Linked DNA regions of Homo sapiens: all the other regions are linked to region 2. Evidence: fine-mapped expression QTL. A gene starts in region 2. Each other region holds a variant in brackets. All regions are shown on one strand. Distances are between the middles of the regions.

Region 1 (10,362 bases), 290 kb after region 2:
CCACCCACTCCAATTCATGATCTTCTAAGTCACCAGATGGATCTTAAAAATAAGATCAGCTCAAGTCCTGCCCAGCTTGCAGTCCTTCCTGACCACATCCTCCACCCTCTTTCTCATCATGCTTCAGTCACTTGGGCCATTCTCCAATTCTCACACTCTTCCCATCCCAGTATCCTCCTCCCACATCCCCCAGACACCCTCCCACTCTTCTCCCCCTCCACACACTTTGCTGGGGTGGTTCCTGCTTAGTCTTCACATCTCAACCTAAATGTCAGATCTCCAGGGAGGCTCTCCTTTAGCTACACGGCTTAAGAGAAGTCTCTGGTGTTACACTGTCTTGCCTTTTCTTCCTTAGCTCCCACCATCATTTGTAATGACATGATTGTCTTATTGTGCATGCTTGCTTCATGGCTACCTCCTGCCATTCCACTGTGCTCTTTGTGAGAGTATAGACTATGGCTATGCCGCTTGACCTTGTATCCTCATGCCTAGCACAGAGTCAGGAACCTGCTAGGTAACCTGATTTGTATTCAGCGCACGAATGAATACATGAGCAGTTTTGCGTTAGTGGTTCTTTGGCAATTGGGACAGAAGCCACGATCCACAATGAGCTTGATATAAGGAAGACAAGACATCTTTAGGAGGAGAACCCAAATAAGACTGATTTCTCTGAGGACCGAAACTCAGAGTGAGCATTTCCAGGGAACCAGCAGAATTAATAAGAGGACATAGAGCAGATTGCCTGGTGACATCGGAGCTTGTCATTTTTAACTAAACGTTCCAGGATCAGGTAACCCTAGAAGGCTGGAAGAAGCAGAGTTGGCCTGGAGGCAGACACAAGGATCCCATCAGGGTTTGCATTGGAAAAGCAGAGGCCTTGGGACTTACCAGGGGATTGCCAACATCTCTTCTAAGAAGCCCCAGGTTCTTTGGGGCCACCTAAACAGCAGGTGGGGGAAGGCAGAGGGGTAATCATAGAGGAGAGAGATTTGCATCGATTGAGGGAAAGCACGCAGGGGGAAGAGTGGTGAAATCATTCCTCCATTTCTCGTGATGGCAAACGCTCCCTGGGGCATATGTTTGGTGGCCCCACAAGGATCTGTCCTTCCACAGGGCTCTTCCTCATGGAAGAGGATAAACTGGCTCCTTTATTTGTCTGATGTTTGGTGATTTCTTTTGTAAATTAAAGGAAATTCAATGCATGCTAAATGGTGGGAATGCATTTGTAACTTAAATGATATTTAACTATGATGAATTGCCCAGGCTAATGAAAGGTTGACAAACCTTAGCCGTGCGTCACACGCTCCGAAATGAAATAGGAGTCAATGAAGCAGCTAAATGCCCCCTTAAATGCCAATCCACCCCTTTCAGTCTAAACCCCCTTCTAATTCTTTCATGAAAATAAATGGAAGGATTCTTCATTATATATTCATTTTCTGAATCCATTTTTCTCATTAGGCTGAAATAAGGGGTAGGTAAGGGTTTATTAGGGAGTAAGCATATCTGATAAGCATTAAATTACTTCTGATGGCTTTATGTATTTAATAGTGTTAGCAAATTAGCTTGGTCTTTTATCTAATGGAGCTGATGTTGATGAGGAGTGTGGATTTAACCCTGCATTAAACAGAACACTGACCCAGGTATCAAGGCGGGTGACTGAAGAGTTGATCCCCGCTCTTCACTCCTGTCCTTGGAAACATTTCCCTGGTGCATGTCTTCAACTAACTGCCTCCATCTGGGTGACTCCCAAGTCATTACCTCTAGTCCTGTCCCACTGAATGTCAGTCTGTAGGTTCTGGATTCCTCCTGCACAGTTATACCTCCCCGACGTTATTCACAATCGACTGAACACACATCCCCTTGCTTATTATCTGCTGCCTTCCAGACATCCTAATTTCTATTACCTGTTCCACCATTCTTCTCATGGCTCAGATTCCAAATCTTATTGTTGTTCAATTCAGCAAACATTCTTAAAAATGGCTTTTTCAGGCCGGGCGCGGGGGCTCATGCCTGTAATCCCAGCACTTTGGGAGGCCGAGGCGGGCTGATCACAAGGTCAGAAGATTGAGACCATCCTGGCTAACACGGTGAAACCCCATCTCTACTAAAAATACAAAAACAAAATTAGCCAGGCATGGTGGTGGGTGCCTGTAGTCCCAGCTACTCGGGAGGCTGAGGTGGGAGAATGGCGTGAACCTAGGGGGTTGAGCTTGCAGCGAGCTGAGATTGTGCCACTGTGCTCCAACCTGGGCACAGAGTGAGACTCCGTCTCAAAAAAAAAAAAAAAAAAAAAAAAAAAAAAACTCTTTTAGGGTGGCGGTGGTTTTTTTAGTTAACTTTTCCAACTCACTGTGATACTGCTTCTTCATGTTCCCAGAGAGGAGTGTGTTAGAGTGTGGGTTAGCACTGTGGACAGAGGACTGAAGGGTAGGGTTCCTGCCTGTCAGAATCACATAGAGGCAGGAACTAAATATGTCAATAGATAATTATAATGTAATATGCATAAATTATTTTAAGGCACAGAAAAGGCCACCTAAGGGTGGGAATGGATAGTGAGCAAGGCTTCAGAGATGAGGTGATGTTGGACTTGGCCTGGAAGAATGAGTAAAGCATGCCAGGTGTTAGTGTTGCAGGGAGCAGGATGGCCATAGGCTCGTATTGATTCACTGTGCATACAGGAGTCTTACTTCCATTTCCAGTGATCTCTAAAGTTTCCAGCATTCCTTGAGCATGTTGAATGAATCTCAAGTTTTGTTATCTTCTGGCCTAATGGGGAGGATGGATTCACAAGTCAGTTGCAAGATGTATCAGAGTCAATGTTCTGGCAGAAAATGGACAGTTCTGAAGAGACTTGCTAATAAAGATAATGTTTATAGTGGGGAGGGCAGGGTTTAGGAATCTTCAAGGGATATTGAGGCATCCAGTGCCCAGAAATAGCGGGAAGCTCTCATCACCCCAGGTCTAAAGGGGCATCAGAAGACATGAGGTCTAAGGAAGCTGGCTGCTCACAGAAGCTGATGTCATAGATATAGCTACCACTAGAACCTCACTTGAGTAGGGAAGGTGCGGACAAGCAGTATCTATGTATGACTTCTCTTGTCTGTTGGTCTCCAATCTTCTGCTTATGTATCCCCTTGGTCAAACCCAGTCAGAATCCATTGAACAAAGGCTAGATTATGCAATGCGTGAAAGTCGCTTTTCATGGCATAGAGCAGACAGACAGGTCAAAGAATGAATCTCAGAAGGGAAGTGTGGGGAATGGGGAATGAAGACTCAAAGAAGACTTTTCTCGAAAGTAAATGAGCTCTACCTTCAACTCCAGCTTGTTCACATCCTCTGGGCGGGAGTTTTCACTTGTAATTTGTAAGAGAGAAAAAGAGTATGAAAAGTCAGAAATAGAGTTGTGTGTAACAATGCTAAGTAGAAAGAGGAGTTTCATATTACTCAATTGACTTTAGCTTCTGAGAATAAGTAGAACGAGAACAAAGAAGAAGATAAGAAGTAATCTTCCTTTGAAACTTAGGTGGCAGAGATGGCTGGTTGCCTCTCCCCAGACTATGCTCTATCTTCTGTTAGAATATTCTTTTAATTTTATTTGACAATGTAGTGTGCACATCTCAAGGATAGCATTTCCCAGTATCATTCACTTAAAGGGAGACTATGAATTGTAAGTAGAAGTCATTGTGTGAACTTCAAGTCATTGTGTGGACCTTCAGCTCAATTAGCTAAGAGTGAATCTCTTGTCACTCCTTGCTTTTCCTTTTGTTTCTGCCTGGAATCATGGCTTGCGTTCATCTTGTGTTCTTGATGAGGAAATCCATGCCCAATAGGCAGTGGCACTCAATTTACTCAATTGGTTCTCTTCCTATTAGCCAAAAACAAATTCTAATGGATATGTCATGTTTATGTAAGTTCAATACTCTTATAACCTCTTGGCAGGATATGGGACTTGGCAGCAAACTAACCAAGTAGGATCTTTGGTAGCCATTGCACATAGCAGAGGCTCTTTTTGGGATAGAGTGCATGTTCCAGCAACAATTTCTTCTGTGTCATATCACTTACTGATGGTGTGAAAAATTCACTTTCTGAACTATAAAACGGGATTCTTTTTCTGACAGTCATGAACACAAAGAAAAAAAAGGAAATAATATTGAAAGTTAGGACTGTACCAGAAAAAAATAAAGGAACATCCTAATGCCATTCATAAGCTAATTCCCCAAATTAAAGATTGTATGATATTTGTGCCTTTACAGAACTCTAGTGAATCTCTTGTTCAGCCGTCTACAGACTACTGGCCTAGGGGCCAAATCTGATCTGATATCTATTTTTTATAGATAAGTTTTATGAGGATATGGTTATGCCCAATCATTTTATGGTTTTGTATGCTACTTTCGTGCTACAATGGCAGAGTTGAGTGCTTGCTACTGAGACGGCATGGCCTGAGAGGCCTAAAATATATGCCCTCTGGCTTTTACTCAAAAAATTTGCTGACTCCTGCTCTTGTCTATAATGACTCCTGCTCTTGTCTATTATGATTACATCTTTTGTCTGCAAATTTGTGTTCATTTGAGGTTTGGATATGATTCAGTAATTTAGATTTTAGAAAACAACAGTATGACTATTTGTGGAATTTATTTAGTACTTGGTTTCCTCAACTTCTCCCCCATAAGAGGTGTATTAGAACATTTCAAGTCAATCAATTACAGTGGAAGTCTTAGGGAATTATAGTAGTCATAACTGATAATCATTGATGACTGTATTGAGGGGTTTTTGAGATGTGGATTATTTGTATAAGATTAGAGTTTGTAGGTGCCTTGAGGCAATATATTTAAAGATTATCATTTTGTACAGGGGTGCAGTTTTAGGAAAGATGTACTTGAACTACCGAGGAAGGGTGAATACAGGGGACTCACCAAGGCTAGGAGATTCTTTGCAGTAACTAGCACATAGAAGGCCTCAAAATGCCTAATTACCCTTAATCATTCTAATTTACTACCAGTAGAAATAACTAAGCATAAAATTCTGAAAAAAAAATCCGGATTCTAGTTGGTGGGTTGTAAAGCATTCAAGATCTCTTGATTAATGGGTTAGATCTGAAGCCTGGGCTCATCGCTTAATAGATGTATTACCTTGGGCAAGTTTCTTACCCTCTCTGAGGCTCTTTTTTTTTTTTTTTAATTTGTATATGGGAAAAACAATGGCATCTCACTATTAAGATTATTGGGAGAATCAACTGAGTTGTAAAACATGTGTGTGTATACAGATATATACACACACATACACGTACATACATATATACACACACATATATACATACACACACATATATGTATGAACACACATATATGTATGTGTGTGTGTGTATATATATGTATGAACAGAAATGGGCAGCTTTTAAGTGCTGGTTAACCTATTAACACTTAATAATCCTACTGGTATAGCTTGGCTGTGTTCCCACTCAAATCTCATCTTGAATTGTAGTTTCCTTAATTCCCGCATGTTGTGGGAGGGACCAGGTGGAGATAATCGAATCATGGGGGTGGTTTCTCCCATCCTGTTCTCCTGATAATGAGTTAGTTCTCATGAGGTTGGATGGTTTTATAAGGAGCTATCCCCTTTGCTGGGCACTGATTCTTCTCTCCCCTGCTGCCATGTGAAGAAGGACTTTGCTTCCCCTTCTGCCATGATTGTAAGTTTCATGAGG[C/GC]CTCCCCAGCCATGCTGAACTGTGAGTGAATTAAACCCCTTCCCTTTATAAATTACCCAGTCTCAGGTATGTCTTTATTAGCTGCGTGAGAACAGACTAATACACCTATTAACACTTAATAAATGTTAACTATTATCATTTGATTCAATTTCTTTTTAATCTCCTCAGATTCCAGTTTTCATGCTAGCTGATAAAGCCAGCCTACTAACAGACAATATAAGATATTTCATTAGGCAATGTGAAATATGTTATTTATTTCATTATTAGAAACTCAAGAAAGAGCATCCTACAAAGCAAAGTTCTGTTTTGGGTAACCCTCCCCATTTTTTTTGTATTATGGCTGTGTGTTTATAAAGTTGCATGTATATCTATTCATTAAATGAATGTGCAGTTTCAGTTAACTTGGGGAATAGAATATTGATTTAAACCATACTTTAGGAGGCTTATCTATCACTCTGAACAAATAAAAACTTCTGTGAGATTGGATTTCATTGCATGAGACAGGAAAAAACATACTCCGCTGAATACAGCTTGTGGTTGTAAGGCCAACTTCTAGAGGTGTCATCAATATATCGGGTTCCTGCTTTCACTTTTTAATGATCTCTGTCAACTCTAATAAAGATACGCTCACTTTCATTGAAGCAGAATTTACCCTGTCTCTCAGGGATTTTTTTTTTAAACATACTGACTATACCTTCAGCCTGTCATTATCCCAGAATTGACATTTCTACCTTCAAGATTTGTTAGCGTTAGAGAATCAATGTGTTGATAAGAAATTTTGTCCTACCTTGACTGTGGATTTTGAGCTTTCTCTTTGTGGAGTTTGACTTATTTCCAAACTGCTTCCATAGAGGAAAAAGACCGTAAATTACAAATACTGAATTTACCAACTCCATCTTGTTCTGCCCTCTTTTCTCAGCTCTCATGCTTATAGCTGGAGAGTTGAATGAAAAGCTTTTTAAAACTTTCTCCAGTCCAGTTTTGGAGTCAATTAATCCTCTGAAGACCACAGATTGTCCCTAGTATTCCTTTTCCCATTTGTTTTTTTGTAATAGAATTCCAGAGTCTATGCTTATCTAGCTGAAGACTCCTTATTTTCTAGAATTCCTCAAACCTGTGGGTGGCTATATGGCTTACTTCTGGCTTAATGGGGTGTGATAGAAGTGAGGCATGCCAACTGCATGTTATACACCCAAATTAAGGTCATGTGCCCTGCATGACCTTCCCCCTTTCTGGTGATTAGAATGCATCAGCAAATAAAGCAGGAACATTACACCACAGTGTGGGAGTGACTCATTGAGGAGGCGCAGCAGCTGGGCAGAAGGAGCCTGGGTGCCTGATTGGCAGAGGGCTGCTATAACAGCCCTAGTCTACGTAAGCCCAGAACGTCCCAGAAAGAGAATTAATGATTTTGTTTAACCCACTATTATTTTAGCTTTTTCTAGAGCAGCTAATAGAGAATTTGGGATTTAGACAGGGGGTGCTACCACACTAAGACATAAAATTGAGCATATTTACCTCACAGTTGACAACGTGGTAGGTGGGCATGGCAGGGCAAAACGTTTAGTAAAACCGTCACCTGCAGCATCTCAGAAGACCACATTATGCCACCAGAGTATGTGACTGTAGCAGAACTGGTTGGAAAAACAGGGTGGTAGTTGGTGTTGGATGATTGTTCCTGTTATTTGCAGGACTACCAAAGAGATGAACTCAAGTGATAAGGAAGTAGCAACAGCAGCAGCTGTTTCAGTGGCCCCAAGCCTTTCTCAGGTACCTTCTTCAGTGCTTCTGGCTAGATAATGGGAGCCATTCCTACTGCAAAATCAGATTATAAACATTGTGCTCCCATCCAGGGCTTTTGTTTCAGATGTCCTCAAAATCACCATAAAGAGGATGGTAGAGGGAGTTGGGTAGAGCATGAAGGCCAATAAATAAAGTACATAAACACAAGAAATTTCATTTACTATGATAGGTCTAAAGGAGAATTTTGGTTGTGGTTGCTTAAACTGGGAAGTGTTTGGAAGCAAATACATCTTTATGTTTTTGAGAAAATAGTTTTTCCAAAGAAATTGCAAGCCCAGCCAGCAAAAGTCTGATTTTTCAACCCCTAAAGTAACCCCAGACGTTCCTATATGCACCACTAGGAAACAGACAGCAAACCTGTGCAACCCTGAAAAAGAAACACTGTTCAGTTTTCATTGTATGTGAGTCCATGAAAGATAACAGACAAGGGCGTTTCTCCTAGAAAATCCAGAGAGCTGCCAGACAGGTTACCCAAAGAATTTGTTTCACTGCCCAGCATGATGTGCAAATGGCCATGGGCAAGGAACTGCCATCCTTTCCATTCACCTGTTTCCTGAACGGGGGTTTTCACTGCAGTTGCCCTGACTCTACTCAACCATGTTGCTCTAGAGCAATGGCTTGTAGATAGCTCAGACTCTGGGCATCCATATCAGACCTAATGGAGAGAACCGTGCAACTCCCAGAGTTACTAAATTTGAGCTGCCTGCAGAAATTGGGCAGAACTTTAAGTTATCTCTCTTGGGGATGATGGGAGGGTATTCCATGCCTAAGAGGAAGGGTATGTATCAATATTTTGTCAGTAAAAATGGGAAGCACATGCTCTAATATCCATTTTTCCTTCTTTTGGTCATATGATTTACCCAACTGTTTGGCTTCCCAGCTAGAGACTACATTTTCTAGCCTCCCATGACACTTGTTTGCTTGACTAAATTCTGCCCAATGGTGTGTGAGTGGGAGGTCTGAGTGCTAATTGTTTGCTGAAGTCTTAAAAGGAAGAAACATGTCCTCCTCTTCAACTTCCCTTCCTCTCCGTTTCTGCTGGCTGGAATATAAACATGATGGAAGGCACTGGAGCAGCCACTATGGACCACAAGTTAGAATCTGCATGCTGGAGGTATCAAAGTACCAGATGGAGATGCCTAGTTTCTTGACACTGTGGGGCAGTCTGCAGTCCTGACTGCTCTGTATGAACTCTTACCTTGGAGAAAAATAAGCTCTCTTATTCAAGTCATTCTTCCCTTAGCTTCTGTTTCAGCAGCTGAAATGGTCCCCTAACTAGTACAACAGAATACTATTTCTTCTGAAATGGAGATCTGAATTGCTGACAGCTCCTTCTTCAGATGGGAACTGTGGGGGCATTAATCATGGTCAGAGATTCTCTTGTCTGCCTCTGAGTGCTATGCAGTGAGGACTGCAGTGACTGTACAGGGACTTGTTCTCGGCCCTGCTGAGGTGACAGGATGCCTAGGGGTGGTTATTCTCTGGCCTTACCATGGAGAAGTTGATAGGAGTGCCTGGTGTGTGTGGCTTCCCTAAGCCTCATGTCTGCAAACAGTCACAGTCTGTCTAAAGTGCAGTGGTACACAGAGCTGGCAGGCCTGGGATAACCTAACTGAAGAGGGCTGTGACATCTGACTCCTCCTCAGGAATCACTGCAGCTGCCACTGTGTACCTGCCCACTGAAGAGATTGTCTGCTCACATGCTCTGCCTGGGAACCATCCCAGTCCTAAGGTTTTCAATACAGCTTGAAAACAAGCCCTCAGCTGTTTTATAGGCACTTTCTATGTCCACTCACTTTGTGAAGAGACAAAATGCCTTTGGTTTCAGAGCCAGGGAAATCGTACTAAATTCTGCAGTCTCAACCCATGGATTTAGAGCATAACATATTTTTCAAGGGGAGGTCTTGGAAAGAACAAAGGATTTGGTATAAAAGATTTACATTCTCATTGTGATTGTGTCAAGCTCTGTAGTTTAATTGTCAAAATTGAGTCTAAAATCAATTCGCTTTAGGTATAATTCCTTACTCTTTTCTGTGTGACCCCAGACAAGTTATTTATGCGCTCTCATTGTAAGCCTGAATTATATCATCTGTAAAATGGGGATTTTTTGTGGTGAGCATTACCTATTTAGCTATTTACACAATGCCTGGTTTAACATAAGCTGTCAGTAAGTTTTGGATATTATGGATATTTTTATAATTATAACCATGCGTTTCACAGGATATGTGACTAATCATGAAAGTCTTTCTGTTATGAAAACTCTGAAAACCCCAGAAACTCTTGATGGGGATCATAATAATGATGGTGTATGATTGACGGTGGGATGGGCGCAATGCAGAGCAGGGAAACAAAAGCATTTGACATAATTACCTTAAGAGAAAAGTGGCAGAAAAGAAGTCTGCATTCAGACAGTGTATACTTATTAAATACCAACTCTGGGCTACGCTTTGCTCTGGACAGGAAAAAACAACAAAGTGCCTATTTAATAGGCATTTTTATTCTGGTGGGGAGAGCCATTCAATAAATAAACAGTTGCTTTTGGGTGACCAACCTCCCCAAACCCACATGGCTCACCCATAGGTGGCACAAATCCCAGATTTGATTGCTAGATGTCTGAGCCCTGAGGATTTATGCTTCACTCTGACCTTTGACTCCTGTCCCTAGGAAACATATTTGAATGGAAAGATAATGGGAATCTCTTTGTTACAGCTCAGACTTGTACTGAGTCTCTTCTTTGCTCCAAGTTCTTTTCTTAAAAACATTTTGTGGTTTCTATATTTAATAGGTTTATATAGTTATGGGGTAGACAGGTATACAATGTGTAATAGTCACACCAGTGTAAATGAAGTGTGCAT
Region 2 (9,977 bases):
CAGGTGAGAATGGCACTGCTTGATCCCACTACTTTAGGTATCTGAGGCCACCTCTGATGGAGCCTCTATGCAGCTGCCTCCTCTGGACTCTGATATGGCTCTTGTGGGATTTCTCAACTGTGCATACATCTAGTTACTCTTCCAAGGTCAAATTTGCAGGTTCAAGAAACTGATTGAGAAAGCCTGGTCATTGTCAGAGCCTGTACTGATAAGGACAGTAAGAGAGAGGATCTGGCTCCTTAACTTCTGAAGGAGGCAGAATTCTCTTTCACACCAAGACTCTCACTATGAGGAATCAGCCACACACAACATAGATTTGGATGACTGTGGACAACAACCCAGCAAAAAGAAAAACTGAGACCAATACAAAGACAGGAATAATCTGTTTTTGCAGAATTAATTGTGGGGAAAGCAGTAAACTCAAAAGTTGTACGATAGTTATATAGGTATGTCATTTATGTTATTATTTATATAATAAGCACTTATATAACACATAGGATGTGTGGGTCACTCTTCTAAGTGCTATAAAAATATTAGCTTGTCCAATGTTCACATTAATGTATTGCCATCATTATCTCTATTTTATGGATGGGTAAACTGAAGCCCAAAGAAGTTACATAACTTAACCAAAATTACACTGCTGCTAAGCAATAGGAGAAAGATTTGAAGCCAGGAGACCTGGGGCTCCAGAGCCAGTATTCTAACTACTATACTACACTGCTCTTTGCTATAGAAGTTTTTATTTGTAGTTATACTTAAGAAAATGTTCAGTAAGCAATTTATAATTTATTTCATTAGGTGGATTCTGTCCTTTGACTTATTTTCATTTTGTTTATATAAAATCTTGAATGAATAGAGCCTTATAACATATTTTAGAGAGAAGTCACTCAGTAGGGCAGTATAACTAACAGTTGCCATCAAGAAACACGTCCAGAGTTGAAAGACCAGACAAATGGCAGATGTTGGATATATACTGAAAGGAATATAAGTCATTCTCCCATAAAGACACATGCAAGTGGATGGTCATTTCAGCACTATTTGCAATAGCAAAGCCATGGAATCAACCTAAATCTCCATCAGTGGTCTATTAATGGATAAAGAAAATGTGTTACATATACAACCTGGAATACCATGCAGCTATAAAAAAGAATGACAGGCCAGGTGCTGTGGCTCAGGCCTGTAATCCCAGCACTTTGGAAAGCCGAGGCGGGCAGATCACGAGGTCAGGAGTTCGAGACCAGCCTGACCAACATGGTGAAACCCCGTCTCTATTAAAAATACAAAAATTAGCCAGGTGTGGTGGCACACCCTGTAATCCCAGCTACTCAGGAGGCTGAGTCAGGAGAATCGCTTGAACCTGGGAGGCAGAGATTGCAGTGAGCCGAGATCGCACCACTGCACTCTAGCCTGGATGACAGAGCAAGACTCTGTCTCAAAAAAAAAAAAAAAAAAAAAAAAAAGAATGAGATCATGTTCTTTGTAGCAACATGAATGGAGCTGGAGGCCATTACCCTAAGAAGACTAACACAGGAATAGAAAACCAAATACTGCATATTCTCACTTATAAGACGGAGCTGAACATCGAGTACATATGGACACAAACAACAACAAAACAACAGGCACTGGGGCCGACTTAAGGGTGGAGGATGGGGGATGGGGAAGGATCAAAAAACTACCTATTGAGTACTATGCTTATTACCTGGGTAATGAAATAATCTGTACATCAACCCTAGGACATGCAATTTACCTTTGTAACAAACCTGCACATGCACCCTGAACCTAAAATAAAAGGTAAAAAATATAGCAGATGTTACAGGACAGTTCAAGAAAACACTCCACACTCTTATGTCCCAGGGGATTCCTACTTTAAGAAACGTTTCCAACTCCTTTTGTAAATAATTCTTTATTCGTATCCCCTTATGTGACCATTCAGTGATTTGTCTTTTAGTTCAATTCAACTAATATTTATTGAGTACTTAGCACAGTTTGGGCACTGTGCTTAAGACATACAAAGAAGAAATAAACTTGGCCTCTGCCCTGGAATTTCTGACAGCCTAATAGCAAAAACATGGAATCAACCTAAATGCCCATCAATGGTAGACTGAAGGGGAGGTGGACTGATTTATAAAAGTAAAGCCTTTTCCTGAAGTGAGACAACAGACTGCTATCATACCGTTTTATGATAGTCTTGGGGAAATAAAAAAAAAAATCCAGACTGCTATTAGAGTTTATCAATAAATTTTCATTAAAAGGCAAGATCTCTGATCCTTCTCAAGAGACTATTTGATTTTGATCACATTATTTTATTTAGAAAAAGGAGAGATTTGGGGTGGCTGAAGTATAGTTGTGATACTTAGAAACACCTGTTATTTAAGAGAAAAATCATCGTGTTTCCTTTGGCAGCACATTTACAAACACTGGAATGTTACAGAGATCAGTGTGGCCTCTGAGCAAGGATGACATGCAAATTCTTGAAGTGTTTCAGATTAAAAAGACAGAGAGAGAAACACTGTCATTACTTTTTAAACTCATTTAAAATCTGAAAACTGGGACCTTCCTTTCTTACCGTCTTATCTCACTGACCCTGATCCACAGACGCAAGGGAAGCTAAGCATATGATCACTCGTGGGGTAACTGTCATTTTTCTTTATCTCACATCTTGAGCACATTTGAGTGCCGTGCCCAGCACTCCAAGGATTTCTGTCAGCATGTATTTATTGGCCTTTTATTAGAAACTTTCTTACCTCATGTCTGCTCTCATGAATATAGATCAGAAATTAGAAACAAAAAATATTTATCTGGTAAGCAATTTCTTTGGTAACTGAACTAATAGGAACTACTGGGACTTCCTGGAAGTGAGGCTACCTTTTCCATTAGAGTTTATGCTTCCTCTTTTGTAGACTTCACACATTGCTCAAATATTTGTGGCGTGCATTCCAACTACAAGGTGCAATTGAGGGACGAGAAAAGGGAAAACTTAGTTGGGCAGACAGCTAAAGTTGGTCTTTGGTAAAATTCTTTTAAACAGAAAGACAGCCTGAAAAATCAAGCTACAGGCACACATAGAGTGGCCTGGGGAAAACTCAGGCAACAGCTGCCCTGATAAGAAAGGAAGGCCCAACATAGAAGCCTTTTGTTCTTTGTGTGATTAGCAGGTTCCCAGGAAAAAGTTTCTTCCCCTTTTCAGGCACATACATGGTGGGCTCTGTGGGAACTTGCATGGGGGTGGAGAGGGTGATTACCTAGAACCCACAGTTACACAAACAAGAGAAGCTGAACTTTATCCTTACCCAAGACATACCCACAGCTGCACAGATAAGGGGAGCTGCACAGATAGCTTTACAAGTAAGTTACACAAACAGCTACAGAGATGAGAGGAGTTTCTTATAAAAGCTTTTGGATTCAACTGTAAAAGTGGCAAAATGGCAAAGAAAGAAAGCTTTCTTCTTTCATATAATAAACTTTCTCTTCAACCTCACTCTGGTGTCCACACTCCTTAATTCTCTTGGTTGTGAGACAACAAGCTTGGATAACACCTCAGACAACGAGACCACTGACCACTGACCCGTTTCACAATGACGTACTACAGGATGGTGTATGCTGGGTATTCATACATCGTCATGCAACTTCCTAGTTTTATGTGTAAGGTAGTTTCCTCTGTCATCACCTTGGTATTTCCCATCTAGTCACGGTATTAAGTGGGTCTTATGCGCTTGTTAAGAGCTGGTAAGAGAAGCTTAACATTCACTTGATGGAATGGTTACTGTGGCTTGTATCCACAGGAGCTCCAGCTCATGCTTAAAATACTGTGTTAGAACAAATGGATCAGAGTGAATTCTGTAACAGTAAATCCACAGAACTGAAAATTACTGACTTGCATCATAAACTGGTTGCAGTGGCAAGGCAGAGAGTTCAGATTCGTGTTGTACTGGGGAAAGAAGAAACCAAAGAAAATAAGTGGTTCATACACAGGGGACTATTTAACTGATCCAAGCCAGAAGACTACTGAGGGTGAAAGGAGCATTATCAGTAATTATGTTTAGACAAAAGTTGTGACTGTCCTTAGTAAACCAGGATAGACGTAGAGTCAATTCAAAAAGAAAGAAAGAACAAACATATCTAATGTACATTAAGAACCCAGGGATATCGGGTTCTTAATGTGCATATTTATTGGATTGCCCAGAGCTTTGACCTTCAAGTATAATTGAGTTCTTGAAACTTAGATTTAGGTTTGTGGTTAAGGGGCAAAATAATCAGATTCCAAATAGGGTTCTGCAGACAAATCCCACAGGTCCTAAAGTCTCTGGGTCTTTTCCTTGCCATTGTGGTATCTCAGGGGCTTGTGTAGGCAATGATAACCAGTTCCATACTTCTGCTAAGAGAAATTTGGGGATCAGAAAATCTTTCTCTGCAGCTCTTCAGAGTCTCTTTAATTTACTTCAATAACAAGGAAATCAGAAATCTCAGGACAGTGCTGGATGTGGCAGAAATTCAGGGCAATTCACAACTTTCCTACCAATTTAGAGTTACCTGTCTGGAATCACTTCAACTGACAGTGGAAGATAGTTTATAAAATTGTAGGGGAGGCAAAATTTCACCTTCGTCCCTGTAGGGTCCCAGCATGGCCCTAGTATTAAATTGATTTAAGATATTAATAGACTGACAGGAGACAACCACACAAATGTTTATTTTACATAGCACGGGGGCCCTCATTAAAAAAAAAAAAGACCTAAAGCAGCAGTTAAGAGCCAATTGCTTATAGAGTGAAATGGACAAAAAATAGTAGTTGTGAAACATGATAAGGCGAAGGGGCTTGGGGTAAAGAAGCGACTAGAAAGATAGGGATTAACAAATTTTGTTTGGACAGATTTCCCTCGACTTCAACTTTCTGTCCTTGAAGATAACAATGTTATTTTATAGGGAAGACATCTTTCACATGGGAATTTCATCTCCTCCTTTTAAGACACATAATATCCATGACAGTGATCTTGCACCTGCTGTTTTTAAGTGCCTTTAATTTAAAATAGTCAATATGCCACAGCAGCATATTTTGAGGTGGTATATTATTAACTCCTTCAAGGCTAAAAGCTTTGAATATGCCGGGGTAGTTACCAGACTGGAGAACCTTCTCAGCTATTTGCCACTTGTGGAATGCATTCAAATGTACTGAGTGCTTATTAACTTTTCTCTCAGTCCCTCACTCTGCTGCTCTTCTCGCCTCATCTCACATAAGGGAAAACTCAGGCTCCAAAAGCAAAGTGATTCCACCAAGATGACAATGGAATCGGGACCTGGTGTCCAAGCCTGGTCCTCGCACGAGGTAGATACTCCCTGAGATGCTGGGGAAGAGCCATGGTAGGGCCACTCATGGCCCTCTTCCTTTGGCGGACCTTGGAATCCACCTTCCCTGCGTTAAAGTGCTCCACCAGGTGACGCCGGAAGAGAAGCCAGCAGTAAGTACATGTGAAATCCAGTAGCTGACCACAGACACGCGAGCGATAAGAAAAAGCTCGCTGCTTCTTTTCTCAACACTCCGCCAGCTGCGTCAGAGGCCCTTGACCCGCACTCAAAATGGCGGCGGCGGCGTCAGCATCAGCGGCCTCCTGCCCGTATCTATCGTGGCGGCGACGGGACCCGCCTCCCTGGGCGCCGGAGTCATGTGACCCACACAATGGCTGAGTGGCTACTCTCGGCTTCCTGGCAACGCCGAGCGAAAGCTATGACTGCGGCCGCGGGTTCGGCGGGCCGCGCCGCGGTGCCCTTGCTGCTGTGTGCGCTGCTGGCGCCCGGCGGCGCGTACGTGCTCGACGACTCCGACGGGCTGGGCCGGGAGTTCGACGGCATCGGCGCGGTCAGCGGCGGCGGGGTGAGCGGCAAGCTGCGGGGATACGCGGGGGGCGGCAAGAGCCCGCCCCGTGGGGCCAGCCCCACAAGCCCCCGCGGCGTTGCCCTGCGTTTCCACCGGCTCCACTCTCCGCCGCATTCCCCTAGGGTGCCAGTCAGCAGGCGGTTGGGGCGGGCCCGCTGCGGGGCTGGGGCGGGTGCTTTCTCGTTTAACACGAACCAGACAGGCAGTTAGGTTTGAACAAATGAGGATCCGGAGGTCCAGAGAGTATAGGTGCAGAGAGTAAAGTGACAGGTCTAAGTAGTGAAGTAGCCGGGGCTGGAACCCTCGTCCCAGGCAGTGGGGCACAGGCTGTCTTCATCGCGGAGATGGCAGTCGGGGAGCGTCGCTCCAGAAAGGGCCAGGGAGTGCGGGAGCGTCCGTGTGCGAAAGAGAACGCCCCAGTGGGATGCTTTGGCTGTGTCTCTCCCTTTTGGAGGAGTTGGTGGGTGGTGGAGTCGTTAAGTCCCGTGCAGTTGTTAGTGCAGGGTAAGAATGGGCTCCTCCAGAGAGGGTAGCGCCGAATAGGATTTCGTTTGGAGGCAGGACTGGTGCCTCAAGGTCTCTTTAAAAGGAAGATAAGCGAGCGGCCTGAAACTACCGGGTACTCCCTCTGGGCCCATGGGCTTCATGGTGGCCGACCTTTGGGTGAGAAGGTTTTTGTTTTTTGGTTTTGTATCCGAAATTACATCTAGGGCTAATGTTTCTTGAAAATGTTAAGGTTGAACTCGGATTTTTGGGGTTGAGTTGGATGGAGCTTGCATCCTTACATTCAACTCAGAACAAGCTTGAATGCCTGCTGCAAGGATGACCTGGTCTGTAGTGTGACCACAAGATATAACCTTCTGCTAGGGGAAATTTTTTTCCCCCTGGAGTTAGCTGATCCTTTTTGATTTTTATGTTTTCATTCCCTAATTTGCAATCTCTCCAGCCGTGCTGATGTGTATTTCAGGGGAAACCTGTGGGCCGATGAGTTAATGCATTTATTCTTTGCTACTACTATTCTCCTTTTTATGTTTTTGGGCTAAACCTGAAACAGCCAATATTTCATGGAGTGAGGCCCCATCTTTTTTATAGCTTTACTTGTGATACTATATCTAGGGTAAGAGCTTACCGAAAAATGGAAGTCTTTGTTTCCATTAGGTTTATTAAGCCCAGTTTAAAATTACTAAGATGAGAAGAATCATTTCGTAATTCAAAGTAGGAAACTCCTACCTAATCTGATAGAATATACAATTATTAGTATCCCTATATAGTTCATTACTCCTCATAGGAACTCACTAAATAATGAAAATTCTTGCAACATTATATTTGCATACCACTTTAAACTTCTTTGTGGAGTCCTTGGTTCCTAGCCCAGGTTGTGCCAGTAAGTGTTTAGAGTGCTGTCATTTAATCTTCATGTCAGAGAGGGAAAGCGGTATGGTACAGTAAGTAGTTAAGAATGTAGGGCCGGGCACGGTGGCTCACGCCTGTAATCCCAGCACTTCGGGCTTCCGAGGCGGGCGGATCACGAGGTCAGGAGATCAAGACTATCCTGGCTAACACGGTGAAACCCCGTCTCTACTAAAAATACAAAAAATTAGCCAGTCTTGGTAGCACGCGCCTGTAGTCCCAGCTACTCGGGAGGCTGAGGCAGGAGAATCGCTTGAACCCGGGAGGCGGAGGTTGCAGTGAGCCGGGATCACACCACTGCACTCCAGCCTGGGCGACAGAGTGAGACTCCGTTCAAAACACAAACAAACAAAAAAACCCAAAAACCAAACCAAAGCGAAACAAAACAAAAAGAATGTAGACTAAAGAGAAGATTGCCAAGAGTGTCTTCTGGGTTCTGCCACTTCACTGTGTGGCCTTGGTGGGTTATCTATTATAACTCCTCTCTGCCTCACTTTCTTTTTTTGGGATACAGTTATACCTGCATGGTAGGAGCGCCGTGAGGATAGACCTAAAGTACTTAGGATGATGTCTTGCACATTACTAATTTTGGTTAATAACCATTTTCAGGGATTAGGGAGGAGGAAGTTATTTCAAGGCCACTGAATGATGAAATGTCCCCAAGGCTTTTTCCTGGGCCTGTAAACAGTTCCAGGCCTCATTCAGGCAGTGTGGTTAGTAATCCCGTGATTTGCTATTGCTAGATGGTGCATTTTAACATTTGGTTATATTGCCTTTGACTTATGCTGTTGTGTTAGGTGTGGCTATAGGTTTGCAATAACATGATTGGTGTGTTTGCCTAAAGCCGATACTTTCTCTGTTAAATGTGGGAGTGCATAGAGGGCAAAAGAAACCCTAGACAGCAAAACGCACAGTATTAATGGCGTAGCGTAGGACAGGAAGCATTGTTTACCTAGGGTCAAGGATATATTAGTGTGCCTATACAGTGTTCATTTAAAGAGTGCCTATTTTAATATTGGAGCCTCTGCTAGGTTGTAAGCTCTTTGAGAAATATGTATTTTAAAAAATTTGTGTATATAACACTTGCCTTTATTGAGAACTTACTATGTGCCAGGTAATGTGCCAAGTCCTTTACATACATCTAATTTTAGTCTTACAGCAGTTGAATGAGTAAGATAGCCCACTTTACAATAATTTGCCTATGATTACATAGCTTATTAATGATGAAATCAGGATACAAACTCCATTTGACTCAAAGACTCCTATTTATGTTGCCAGTACCAGTGCAACAAAAGACCCATAAAATATTTAATAAGTGTTTATTGAATAACAAAGAATGAGGATACAAACTTGAATAAGATACAGTCCATGTCCTTAAGGAACTAAGAGGTGAGTCAGAAAAATAAAGGAGTGCCGGGGTTCAAAGTGTTGTAATAAAGATATGGACCTGGTGCCAAAGGAGAGGCGCTTACATCAAATCAGTGAGCAGGGCCAGAAGGCATCCTTCCTTCAAATTCCAGAGGTGGAATTTGAGCTGAAAGGTGAATTGGAGTTGTCCAAGAGAGGATGTGGGGTGCATTCCAGGCATAAGAATAGAAAACGTTGTTTGATACATCTAGGTAGAAGGTGTGAGAGTGATAAGGGATAAAGTATCAGGGTTAGGAGCCAAATAATTAAGGGATTTGGGTGCAAAATTGAGCGATTTGAACTTTATCCTGAAAGCTTTTGGGAAAGGGACGGTCTTAGCATGTTTACATGGAAGAGTTTCGTGATTACATTTGTATTTTGGGAAGGTTACTCTCGTAAGTAGCATGGAAGATAGAATACAGGGAGAGGCAGAAGGGATGTCCTGAGACCACTTATACTGTTCTCATAAGTGAGGAGGGCCTGGGTAAGTCAGTGGGGTTGAAGAGTAGAGGAGGGATTTGAGAGCTATTGAGGATATCTTGGTGACTGAGGGTACATGGGAAGTTTGGACAAAAGGTGGCCCAAGTTTATGGTTTCGGCAAGTGTTGGTTACTGAGACAGCAAGTTCAGGAAAAGGAGCAGATACATGCAAAAGTGCTATGTTTGGTTTGGGATATATTGAGGTAGATGGAAAGAGTGGCTAGAGAGCAGCTCCATGGGTGTTTGCCTCACTGGTAGGGACTGGGGATGTTTTGGGTGTGACAGAGTAGATATGGGCACTTACCAGAATGTCAGTGGTAGCATATATGAGAATATAAAATAGAAAGTTGAACCCCATAAAAGTATTTTGTCCCAACCATCATACATACACCTGGCAAAGTGTCAGCAGTTTGAACCTAGGACTGTCTGGTTTACAAGCCTGAGGCTACTGTTTCATGCCAAAAACCGGCCTCTTTTTATTTATTTTTTGCTTATATTGCCTCCCAAAGGATAGATTATGGGTCAGTTACTGGTTTTGTGATTTCTTTTTTCAAATAGTTGTATGCCGTGGTCCAGGCATGATCCAGTATTGGTCCCTGCGCTGTCTACCCTTGTCTTTCCATGCATTCTGATGCCACTCTTGTGTTAAGTTTTCTTAGTACAGCCTGGTCTGGAGATTATTGCTAGTTATTCTTAATAGTAACAGGTAGAATTTATGAGGATGGGGAAAGTAGTGCTTCCTTTCAGCATTGCTGCTTGTGATGTTTTTCCGGAAGATGTTAAGGGGAAAAATTACCTGACATTCATCCCT
Region 3 (10,362 bases), 29 kb before region 2:
ATTCAAGCTGCCACTGAGATAACTTGCTCTTAGGGTATATTCTGATCACTTGCATGCAAGCGCAACCTGACATTATTGCAACTTCTCACCTCCTTCCCTGGGGCCACCCTGATGATACTTATATAAGAACCCTGTTGCACTCAAATATGTGTTATATGGAGGTGCAGGGAGGTTCATGCTCTGTGAGACAAACCTTTGACCAATTGGAGGCTGCAGCCAGTGGCTAAATTCTTCACTTTTCTCTGTGATTAAATTATTACAACTTCTTAGAAGATGGTCCTATGGGATTGAGCAATCAGTCATACCTGGAAGCAGTTAGACCTATAATGCATCCTCATATTACTCCCCCTTTTTCTCTATTCTACTCCCTTTCCTTCCTCATTCCTGCTCCCTGGGATTGTACAATCTAATTCAGGCTGGAATATTATCCCACTTCCCAATCTGATCCACTTGTGGCCCTCTGGTGATTCCACTGCCACAGTGAATGTTCCCTCCCATTGTACCATAACTGAAATGTGGCATCTTCTGAGGACACAACTTTCCCTGCAGCCCACTCAAATGAAGACTCCTGGCTCACCAATACTATTCCCAGACCATTCTTCTTCCTTGTTCCTTTGAAATGTACGTCATCCAACTAAAATACCTTCTTGTCCTTCTAAATATCTTTTGTACCTGTCCATTTCTTGCAACCCAAGATGCCACCTGCCTAGTTCAGGTCTCCACTGAATCTTGCCTGTTTGTTTGAACAGCTCTCTCTTTCCACCATCAAATAACTCTCTGCTTCTCATTTTGCCTCCCTCCACCTATATTGGACACTGAGACAAAAGTAATCTTCCTAAAGCACAAATTGGATCATGTCATTCATCTACTTACAACTTTTTTGTGGCTTCTTATTGACTTGTTTCTTTCCAGCCTTTATCTTCTGCCACTTCCTCCCTCACCATCAGCTTCAATAACACTGAACTACTTTCATTTTCCTAAAATGGAGCCTGTCCTTTGCATGTGCTGACCCTGAAACAACCTCCCACTCTTGATCAATGCCCACTCAGTCGTTTAGGTCTCAGAGGCAAGTGTCCTGGACGCTTTCAAGATTGAGCTAGTAGTGGACATCTTATCCAACCTTCTTACTTAACTCTTACCATAGCACTCACTACTTTGTAATTTTTGTCTCTGGATCCTGTGTCAGACTTAAGGCTTCCCAATTCTCCTAGCATCTAGTAAAAATTAAGCATTTGGCAAAAATTCATTGCAAGAATGTCTAGATGAATTGTTTTTCTTTTCTTCCGATTAACTTGTTCACCATCTTTTATAGTATCATTAAAAAGATGAATGTACATTTTTTCTTATGTATTTTCCCAATGTACTTAAAAAGTAAAAATAAATGGCACATGAACAGCATGAAATTGACTGGGACCTTTCTCAGGCACAGTTTATATCACTGGGCTAAACCGCTTACAGTCAGCATTTAGGAAAAATAGATTAAATTCCATACATAGACTTATAATCATTTATCATATTTGTATTCCTTTTACATTTTCATATTTTTAAAATCCTGTGCCATATTTTTATCACAATAGTGTATCACAAAGCTGAACACACCTCCTCTTGAACATTTATCACTAGTGGCCTTGAATCTTATGTGATATCATAATCAGAATTTCTACTTCATAGTGACTGATAGAGAGCAGCAGTCTCAGCTGTAAAAATAGAGTCCCCAGGGAATACTGATAGCCTTTTTCCAATAAAGCGAAATCTATTTGCAATAATAGGTATATGCAAAGACCTCCTGAAATTACAGGAGCAAACTCCTTCCGCATCTCGACCTAATTAAGATCCGTTACTCAACAGTGATCAGTCAGATTTTACTGTAAGAAGGAAGAAAACAAGGATCCTGCTAGAACAACATGGAAACAGGTAGGCTATATGTATGGTGGTTACAGTCACAGGCATTTGGGTTCAAATTCTTGTTCTGCTTTTAGCCTCTCTAGCTTTCCATCTCTTATTGTACAATGGGGAAAATAACATCTACTTCATAATATTGTGGGGAAATTAAGTAAAATATCAGATGTGGAGTTCTCAGCATATAGTATCCTCTCAACATACCCATGGCAGCTATCACTGATGAATTCCCAGAAACCTGGGACAATAAGGAAGTCTATTAAAAGAGCCTTAGCGACCAGCATCTTCAGGGAGGGATGGGGGTCAAGGAGCCAGAGGGAGGTGAGAGAGGATGAAGGGAGAGTGACCATTTTCTCTAAAGTAGTTTTTATTAAATTTTAACAGCTTCCAACCCGGGGTTCAGAACTCTAGGCAATGACCTAGTAGTCAGTAAGGCAGGAATAAATTGTGATAAGCCTGGTTCTATTATGGAAAACATTCTCAGCAAACTGCAGGGGAGAGATAGCAGGAAGATCCATGGCTAATGCACTGCTTTTAAAGAACTTTCATAACTCACTGGACACATAGGGATGTTATGTGCTTTTGCCTAGTCATGAACAGAAAATAAACACAGTTACTTACTTGTCAGGCAGAAAACTTGATTAATTTTTTTAAGCAGTAAGCAGAATCATAGGAAATCATTTCCTTCATGCAAGCCTGCAATAAACGGGAGGTGCATTTGCCACGAATTCATTTTGGTGTTCACATGGTAAAAAAATACTGCCACATGTGGAATGAGCCAAGTGGGCTTTAGAACTGAAGGGGACCAGCCCCTCCACACCTGTGGGTGTTTTTCGTCAGGTGGGACAAGAGACTGAGAAAAGAAATAAGACACAGAGATAAAGTATGGAGAAAGAACAGTGGGCCCAGGGGACCGGCACTCAGCATACGGAGGACGGGCGCCAGCCCTGGTCTCTTGAGTTTCCTCAGTATTAATTGATCACTATCTCTACCATCTCGGAGAGGGGGATGTGGCAGGACAATAGGGTAACAGTGGGGAGAGGGTCAGCAGGAAAACATGTGAGCAAAGGTCTCTGTGTCATAAATAAGTTTAAGGAAAGGTGCTGTGCCTTGATGTGCATGTACACAAACATCTCGGTGCATTAAAGAGCAGTATTGCCGCCAGCATATCTCACCTCCAGCCATAAGGCGGTTTCCTCCTATCTCAGTAAATAGAACGTATAATCGGGTTTGACATTGAGACATTTCATTCCCAGGGATAAGCAGGAGACAGATGCCTTCCTCTTATCTCAACTGCAAAGAGGCCTTCCTCTTTCACTAATCCTCCTCAGCACAGACCCTTTACGGGTGTCTGGCTGGGGGACGGTCAGGTCTTTCCCTTCCCACAAGGCCATATCTCAGGCTATCACATGGGGAGAAACCTTGGACAATACCTGGCTTTCCTGGGCAGAGGTCCCTGCAGCCTTCCGCAGTGTATCGTGTCCCTGGGTACTCAAGATTAGAGAATGGCGATGACTTTTACCAAGCATACTGCCTTCAAGCACTTGTTTAACAAAGCACATTCTGCACAGCCCTAAATCCATTAAACCTTGAGTCAACACAGCACATGTCTCTGCAAACACAGGGTTGGGGCTAGGGTTACAGATTAACAGCATCTCAAGGCAGAAGAATTTCTCTTAGTACAGAACAAAATGGAGTCTCTTATGTCTACTTCTTTCTACATAGACACAGTAACAGTCTGATCTCTCTTTCTTTTCCCCACGTAGAACTCTGAAATAAACATTGCAAAAAATCATACCCATAAAAATATTAATCTGTATTTCTTATGCTCATATTTTAAGGTTGAAAAGATCAATATAACATTAGTACTTTATCACTCTCAAATACTTTTATATCCAATATTTCATTTGCACTGAATAACAGATACCATTAGGTGGGCAGGGGAAATATCCTCCTATTAAAGACAAGGACACAGTCTCTGAGAGGTTATCTCATTTGTTAAAGGTCACGTAGCCTGTAAATGAAAGAACAAAAGTTCAAACAAACCTCATGCCTCCAAATCAAGAGGAAGCCTCAAGGGACCACACTGATACTGCTGTTAGATATGTTCACCGTCTCATGTATTTTGATGTTTACACAGGCCATTTTTAACATACATGTTTAGCAGTCAATGCCACTGGAAATCAGACCAGGGCATGTGTTTAGACATCTTATGGGTATTTCCCTGAATGAGCCCATGAATAGAGTGTAAAAATAGATAAGAAACTGACTTCCTGTTTGTTTCTCTGCTCCCACTTTTTGTCCTTCTTCCGTTGTGCCCTGGGAGGCTGATCTTAGGACCTACAACAAAGAGATTTCTCACTGGCTTCCTGGTGGTTCATTCAATAGGGAATTCCTGCAGCAAGTTGGAGGGAGGGAGGAGAAGCAGGTATGGATTTTTGTTTCTTTCCCTAGTTCTCATTTTAATGCCTGGCCATAGGCTGGCTATGCCTGGGGGTCTGCAGACAGACTTCTGTGCCTCCAGCTTTGGTAACCACCCCCTCTGCTTGCCCTCTCAGAGCCAGGGGCCTCAGGGTGCCCAGATGTTCTTATCCCCAGTTCACGCATCATCCTTGTGGCTTCCTTGTACCCTGCCCATCCTTTGTAAATATCTCTTTACTAAACTTTCCTCAGAATACCTGAATTTGAGTGATCTCTCCATTGCCTGCCAGGATCCTTCCTGACATTACCTTCCAGAATGAATATTTCTGAAGGAGTCTATTCTCTATGCAAAGAAACTCAATTTCTCACCATGTATAAAAGGAAATAAACATCGTTTTCAATGGAAAATAATGTAGGGGACATGTCTGGTGTCACAGGTGTGTTTGGACCACACAGCCCAGAAAGATGTAGTCATAGAAACAGACTCTTTTCTCTCCTTTGTTTGGTAACAGCATCCTGATTTTCCCTTGAGAAACGATCCTCTCTTCTCCTTACAGTCTCTGTTATTATGGTGGGACCGACCCTACTCTCCAGGGCAGGCATGGGGCCCTGCCCTGGCTTATGAGAAAACTATACACCCCTAACCACAGTGATCAGTTTAAAGATGGGAAGGAACAAGGGCAGGGGAACCTTTACATTTTCCAGAGATACCAAGAAAGAGGCTCTCTTCCCGCTGGATTTTCTAATCTGTGGAACCTGGGCCTGGAGATGCTGTTAACCATCTTTGACATCATATAAAAGCCAAAATAAAATAGCAAAAGGTGGAACTGAGAGATGGTGAAAATGTCCTCCTGGCCACAGAGGTTGAGCATTTGAATTCAGCCATACCTGAAAGTGTCCCTGCACTTTTCTCCCCTGGACCAATAATCTTTGTGTGTGTGTGTGTGTGTGTGTGTGTGTGTGATCTGTTGTCACCTTTATCCAGAAAAATCTACAGTAAAGAAAAAATTTATGAACTGGGAGACTTGGAATTGGGCTTAGATCCCTCACCTATAAAATGAGGGTTTTGTACTGGATGTTCTTCAAATGCCTTTCTAGAGCTAAACATGGACAAGGATCAACAGTAGCCAATCTTCCAGGTCAGCTAGAACTGAAAGAACAGTTATGCCTCAAAGTGAGCTCATTCTCTGTTCCTAGCACGTTCACTGCAGCACTGCTGTCCACCCAATAAAGGACAGACATCATTACAAATAAGGGCCCTACCCAGCCCTGGTCAGCCCTATTGATAACTCCCAGGAGAGCTCATACCATCTTCCCACTTCAGTCCAATTAACCCAATACACTATATAATTTTCATAATACCTCTCTTAAAATCTAATCAGCACACCAAATGTCCAAAGAAATATTCAATGTTTACCAGAAGTGAAATGTGGTGATAGTTATTGCGATTGTTAGCATTGCATCTTTATGTCTATCCTCCTTGAAAGGGACTCAAAAAACCCTTCCAAGCCCTCCAAGTTTCCACCAAGTAATATCTTCCTTCATGCACTGTGGCTTTTTGATACTTTCCTCTGGCATCCATTTGATGAAAATTATTTTCATCAAAGGATGCCAGAAAAACAAATGAGTTTTAAAGTAAAGATGAAGGAAAATTTTGAAAAGTACTTAATTTCCTCATTATTCATCCATTCATTGTTCCACTATCCAATGACCAAGGCACTGTTTCTGGGCTGTTCACAGTAGCTCTATTTTCTGCTATTGTTTTTTATTTGATGAAAATTTAGCTTAAACAAACTAGGCTTATGTAAAATCAATGTAATAGCACAATCCTGCATAATTTGCCAAGCATTTGATGAGTTGAAAGGTGACATATTTGCACACTACATTTAGATGTGGGAAAGAAACTATCATCATTGCGCCCTGAAAACCTCATTCCCACCATTGGTGGGGAAATAAAAACCCTAAATTTGTGCATAGAAGATATTTCCATGTCTGCTGGCTTAAATAGTCTTTTAAAGACTTGTTTATGTCTTCTGGATAAAGACTCAATCAAGTTTAAGTTCCATGCCCCTCTTAGTACTGTTTCTC[G/A]TCTTGGAGAGCCACTCACTAGAAGGCACTTTCCACAAGAGGTGCCTCTCACAAGATGTAGTCTTCCATAAGATGGCAACTGGATGGAGAGGAAAGCTTACCTGTCCTCTTTGCTGTGAGGATGTCAACCTGCTGCTCCTCATACTGTCTTCTGGTCCCCTCTGGCCTTTGAGATGATGTCCTGTCTGTCCATTAGGCATCCCCCTGGCAGAAGCTTCTGAGACCACAGTCAGTATAATTGGTGATCTGGTGGTCTGCTGGGGGTCTACTGTGTCCCCTCCAGTTATACTCCCTTGTCTTGGTTCTTGCTAGAGCAGCAGCTCCCCATGGTCTCAGCTGCCTCCTCCATCCACCCTGGGCCTTGGTTCTCCACCCAGCAGCCTCTGCCATGGGGTCAAGTTTCCCTCCCACTGGGATCCATGGGAGGCCCACTGGCCCTCATCTCTCTTCCATACTCTTCTTCCTCTGGGAGCAAGTGACAATGTTTGGATTCCTTCCCTATCCCACAGCAGAGGACCTATTCCCAGTTATCTTTTCTTCTTAAGTATCACCACCATGGTATACCACCATGTCGATTTTTCTGTTCTGTTGCAATTTTACTAATGCAGGGGTGCCCTAAAAGGTGATCTCCTCCCTGAACCCCAAACAAGGCATGAGTCCCCTCTGCCGCTCTGCTTCTGGGTTTCCTTGCTGATCTCTCTTAATATGAATCCGGAAATATGTCCTATCTCTTGCTCTCGCTTTCTGTACCTCATGGATTCTTCGTAGAATCAGAAGGTATATCTACTTCATCTTTTTGTTGTTAAAAGAAAAACTTTAGCCAAATTAAATTTAACAGAGTTTAATTGAGCAAAGAACAATTTGCAAATTGAGCAGCCTCCTGAGCCACAGTAGGCTCAGGGACTCCAGTGCAGACACATGGTGGAAGATTTATAGATAGAAGAAAGAAAGTGACATACAGAAACTAGTGTGAGGTACAGAAACAACCAGATGGGTTGCTACTTGATGTTTGCATCATTTGAACACAGTTTGAACAGTTGGTCACCTTTGATTGTCCAAGACTCAGTGATGACACAAGAGTAGACTACAGTCTGAGTGCAACTCCATTTAGGTTATAGTTCATGATGTACACAGAAACCTTTAGGCTGAACTTAAAATACACAAGGAGGCAGCTTTAAGCTAAACTTGATTTAACACTGTCCAGTAGGGCATCACCAAGTAATATCTTCCTTCATGCATTGTGGCATTTTGATACTTTCCTCCTTTTTCCTGGGCAATAAACTGGGCTTTAATGATGGAAAGCCTTTGGGAGAACAATCACTTATATGGGAATGGAAAATGTAACAATTTAATGTCTTCTAAATAGGATTCCTGTTACATCTAGAATATGTAAAACTCTGCTAGTTTCTAGGAAGGGAGCTGAGGATAGGCTCAGAGGGAATTAAGACGTGAATTAAACATGATTTCTGTTCTTAAATAGCTTTCAACTTGGAGGAAGAGATGGATATGAACACCATTGGCCAAGGCATGGCATAAGAACCAAATGTGGCCTGCACCACTGGGTGATGAGATCAGACAGGGGTGAAAGATCACATAGATCCCTTAAAAAGCTGGCTGCTTTCAGTTTGCTTCTTCTCAATTCTGCAGGTTAGAGACCACAGCCAGAAACCTGATTAGCTGCAGTCTTTGAGCCTAGACCTTAGCTTGAGAATTTCTGTCTCAGCAAACATCAGGTTGGGCCTGAACTTGGGGGTGGGAGGGATCCATCTCTTCACTGGGTGGGACTGTACCTTTTTTTCTGGTAGATGGCAATTAATAGGAGGTACTTAGGAAAGGGCTGCACTCTATTTGAGAGCAGTAGTTCTCAAAGTGTGTCCCACTCACATCAGTGTTATCAGGGAACTTGTCAAAAACACAAATTCTCAGGCCCCACCCTAGGCCTGCTGAATCAGAATCTCTGGGGATGAGGGATTGAGCAAAGAACAATTTGCAAATTGAGCAGACTCCTGAGCCAGAGTAGGCTCAGGGACTCCAGCACAGCCAAATGGTGGAAGATTTATAGATAGAAGAAAGAAAGTGACATACAGAAAATGGTGTGAGGTACAGAAACAACCAGATGGGTTGCTACTTGATGTTTGCATCATTTGAACACAGTTTGAAGAGTTGGTCACCTTTGATTGGCCAAGACTCAGTGATGACACAAGAGTAGACTACAGTCTGAGCGCTCTGTCTTAACAAGCTCTCCAGGTGATTCTCATCCATACTAAAGTTTGAGAACCTCTTCTCTAGACTCTAAAATTATGTAACTCCACACCCACACCCAGGGCCCAGCAGCACTGGCATTACCTGAGAATTTCTTAGAAATGTAGAATCTCAGGCCCCACTTCAGATGTATTGAATAAGAATCTTTTAAACTAAGATTCCTAGTTAATTCTTATAAACATTAAAGTTTGAGAACCATTGCACTAGGTGATTGGACCTATATTCAACCTGGATTCTAGATCATAGGTGGATAGTATCATTTTTTAAATTATTATTATATTTTAAGTTCTGGGGTACATGTGCAGAACGTGCAGGTTTGTTACAGAGGTATACATGTGCCATGGTGGTTTGCTGCACCATCAAACCGTCATCTACATTAGGTATTTCTCCTAATGCTATCCCTCCACTAGCCCTCCAACCCCCGACAGGCCCCGGTATGTAATGTTCCCCTCCCTGTGTCCATGTGTTCTCATTGTTCAACTCCCACTTATGGGTGAGAACATGTGGTGTTTGGTTTTCTGTTCTTGTGTTAGTTTGCTGAGAATGATGGTTTCCAGCTTCATCTATGTCCCTGCAAAGGACATGAACTCATCCTTTCTTAAAAGTTATGTTTTCTTCTCTTTTCCAGGGAGGCCACCTCCTGTCAAAGCTGGGACATCTGAGAGACAGTGGTCACACAACAACTCAACTGCATGTGCACCTAAAACAGTAGCTTATTTTCTCTGACTGTTTCTTCTTCTTCTTCTTCTACTCCTTATTCTTATTCTTCTTTCTGATTTACCAACCTACTGGGTATCAGTGCAAAAAATTATTTTACTTGCGAATTAATGATATCACCACGTTTTCTTGCTTAAACTGTCTTTTTAGGTTAGCTCAGCTACTCTGGGCTAAACATTCAGTCTTTCAGATATACTCCACTTACCTTAGCTCCTCCCATGGTGGTTCCGGGGTTGGAGAGGCTTACGTGACCTTATGGTAGCAGGGCAGAGGCAGGGCTATGCTGCTCATGGGGCATTCTGTAAAAGTAAGATGTGTCTTCCTTATGATACCTTCCTTCCAGTTGTTGGAAAGTTGTCGTGCTGCTTTTATTAGAGCAAGCATCTTGTTGCCATATGCTTTAAAATGGACATAATAAATGTGCAAATCTTCAATGTCTGTTAAATGAATGGTGCCCTCTTAGACATGGATTTCTTGTGCAACACTCAACCTGCACAACTGTATGCCAGTCTCTATTTTTGTACCACAGTAAAGTGCATGCATAAGGCTGAATATGGGGTTTTCCCCAGAGGCTTGCAGCTATCTTCAGGAAAAGCAGACTATTGGCATTGACCATCCTGGCAACTCTGGAAATTCTATTGATCTCAGGCCATGAGGATCAACATTTGTCTCCGACATCCTCATTTTAACTCTTCTTTGCCTCCTCCCCTTAGACCACTGCGGTCAGGAGCCCAGGCTTTTTCATTTCCCTGAATAATAGAAGCTTCGTTTACATCATGATTGGTTCTCACTACCCCCTGGCATAGAGAAAACTCCAATTTTAAGTCAGCCAGGCCTACTTCTTGATATGAGATGGGAGCCTAAGAGGTTTAAAAAGTTCTTTTATTTCCCCATAGTGTCTGGCTTTTGAGACTCCACTCACTAGTGACTCACAAACAATGCTGACTTGCTTTTTCTAGCTAAAGTTTACCCTTT

Which allele goes with the higher level. Positions count from the first base shown, and alleles are read on the strand shown. Sizes are in standard deviations (SD) of each study's normalised expression. Not every link is listed here.
In carriers of allele C in region 1, the expression in gastroesophageal junction of the gene that starts at base 5,654 in region 2 tends to be higher than with GC alone (moderate effect, 0.59 SD a copy in GTEx).

The links. PIP is the estimated chance that this variant, and not a neighbour inherited with it, causes the effect.
Region 1: its variant is the best candidate, but not a certain one, in a credible set for the expression of GALC in gastroesophageal junction (GTEx, PIP 0.77).
Region 3: its variant is the best candidate, but not a certain one, in a credible set for the expression of GALC in whole blood (TOPMed, PIP 0.52).

Annotation. Positions count from the first base shown.
Region 1 is chr14:87,695,326-87,705,687 of GRCh38, reverse strand. No RefSeq gene overlaps it. Among named protein-coding and RNA genes, the nearest start is that of LINC02330, 45 kb to the right of the region's middle. The variant C/GC (reference allele first, on the strand shown) is at 5,705.
Region 2 is chr14:87,988,859-87,998,835 of GRCh38, reverse strand. GALC (galactosylceramidase) reads left to right here and starts at 5,654. Exons shown (of 17, transcript NM_000153.4): 1 at 5,654-5,866. The coding sequence starts at 5,672. It also overlaps the pseudogene RNU6-835P. RefSeq lists enhancers at 5,317-5,646, 5,341-5,841 and a silencer at 5,797-5,986.
Region 3 is chr14:88,017,640-88,028,001 of GRCh38, reverse strand. It overlaps LINC01147 (long intergenic non-protein coding RNA 1147), which reads left to right and starts at 1,690. Exons shown (of 3, transcript NR_110121.1): 1 at 1,690-1,914; 2 at 4,226-4,327; 3 at 9,299-9,397. It overlaps HISLA (HIF1A stabilizing long noncoding RNA), which reads right to left and starts at 3,452. Exons shown (of 4, transcript NR_046094.1): 1 at 3,333-3,452; 2 at 2,521-2,595. The variant G/A (reference allele first, on the strand shown) is at 6,409.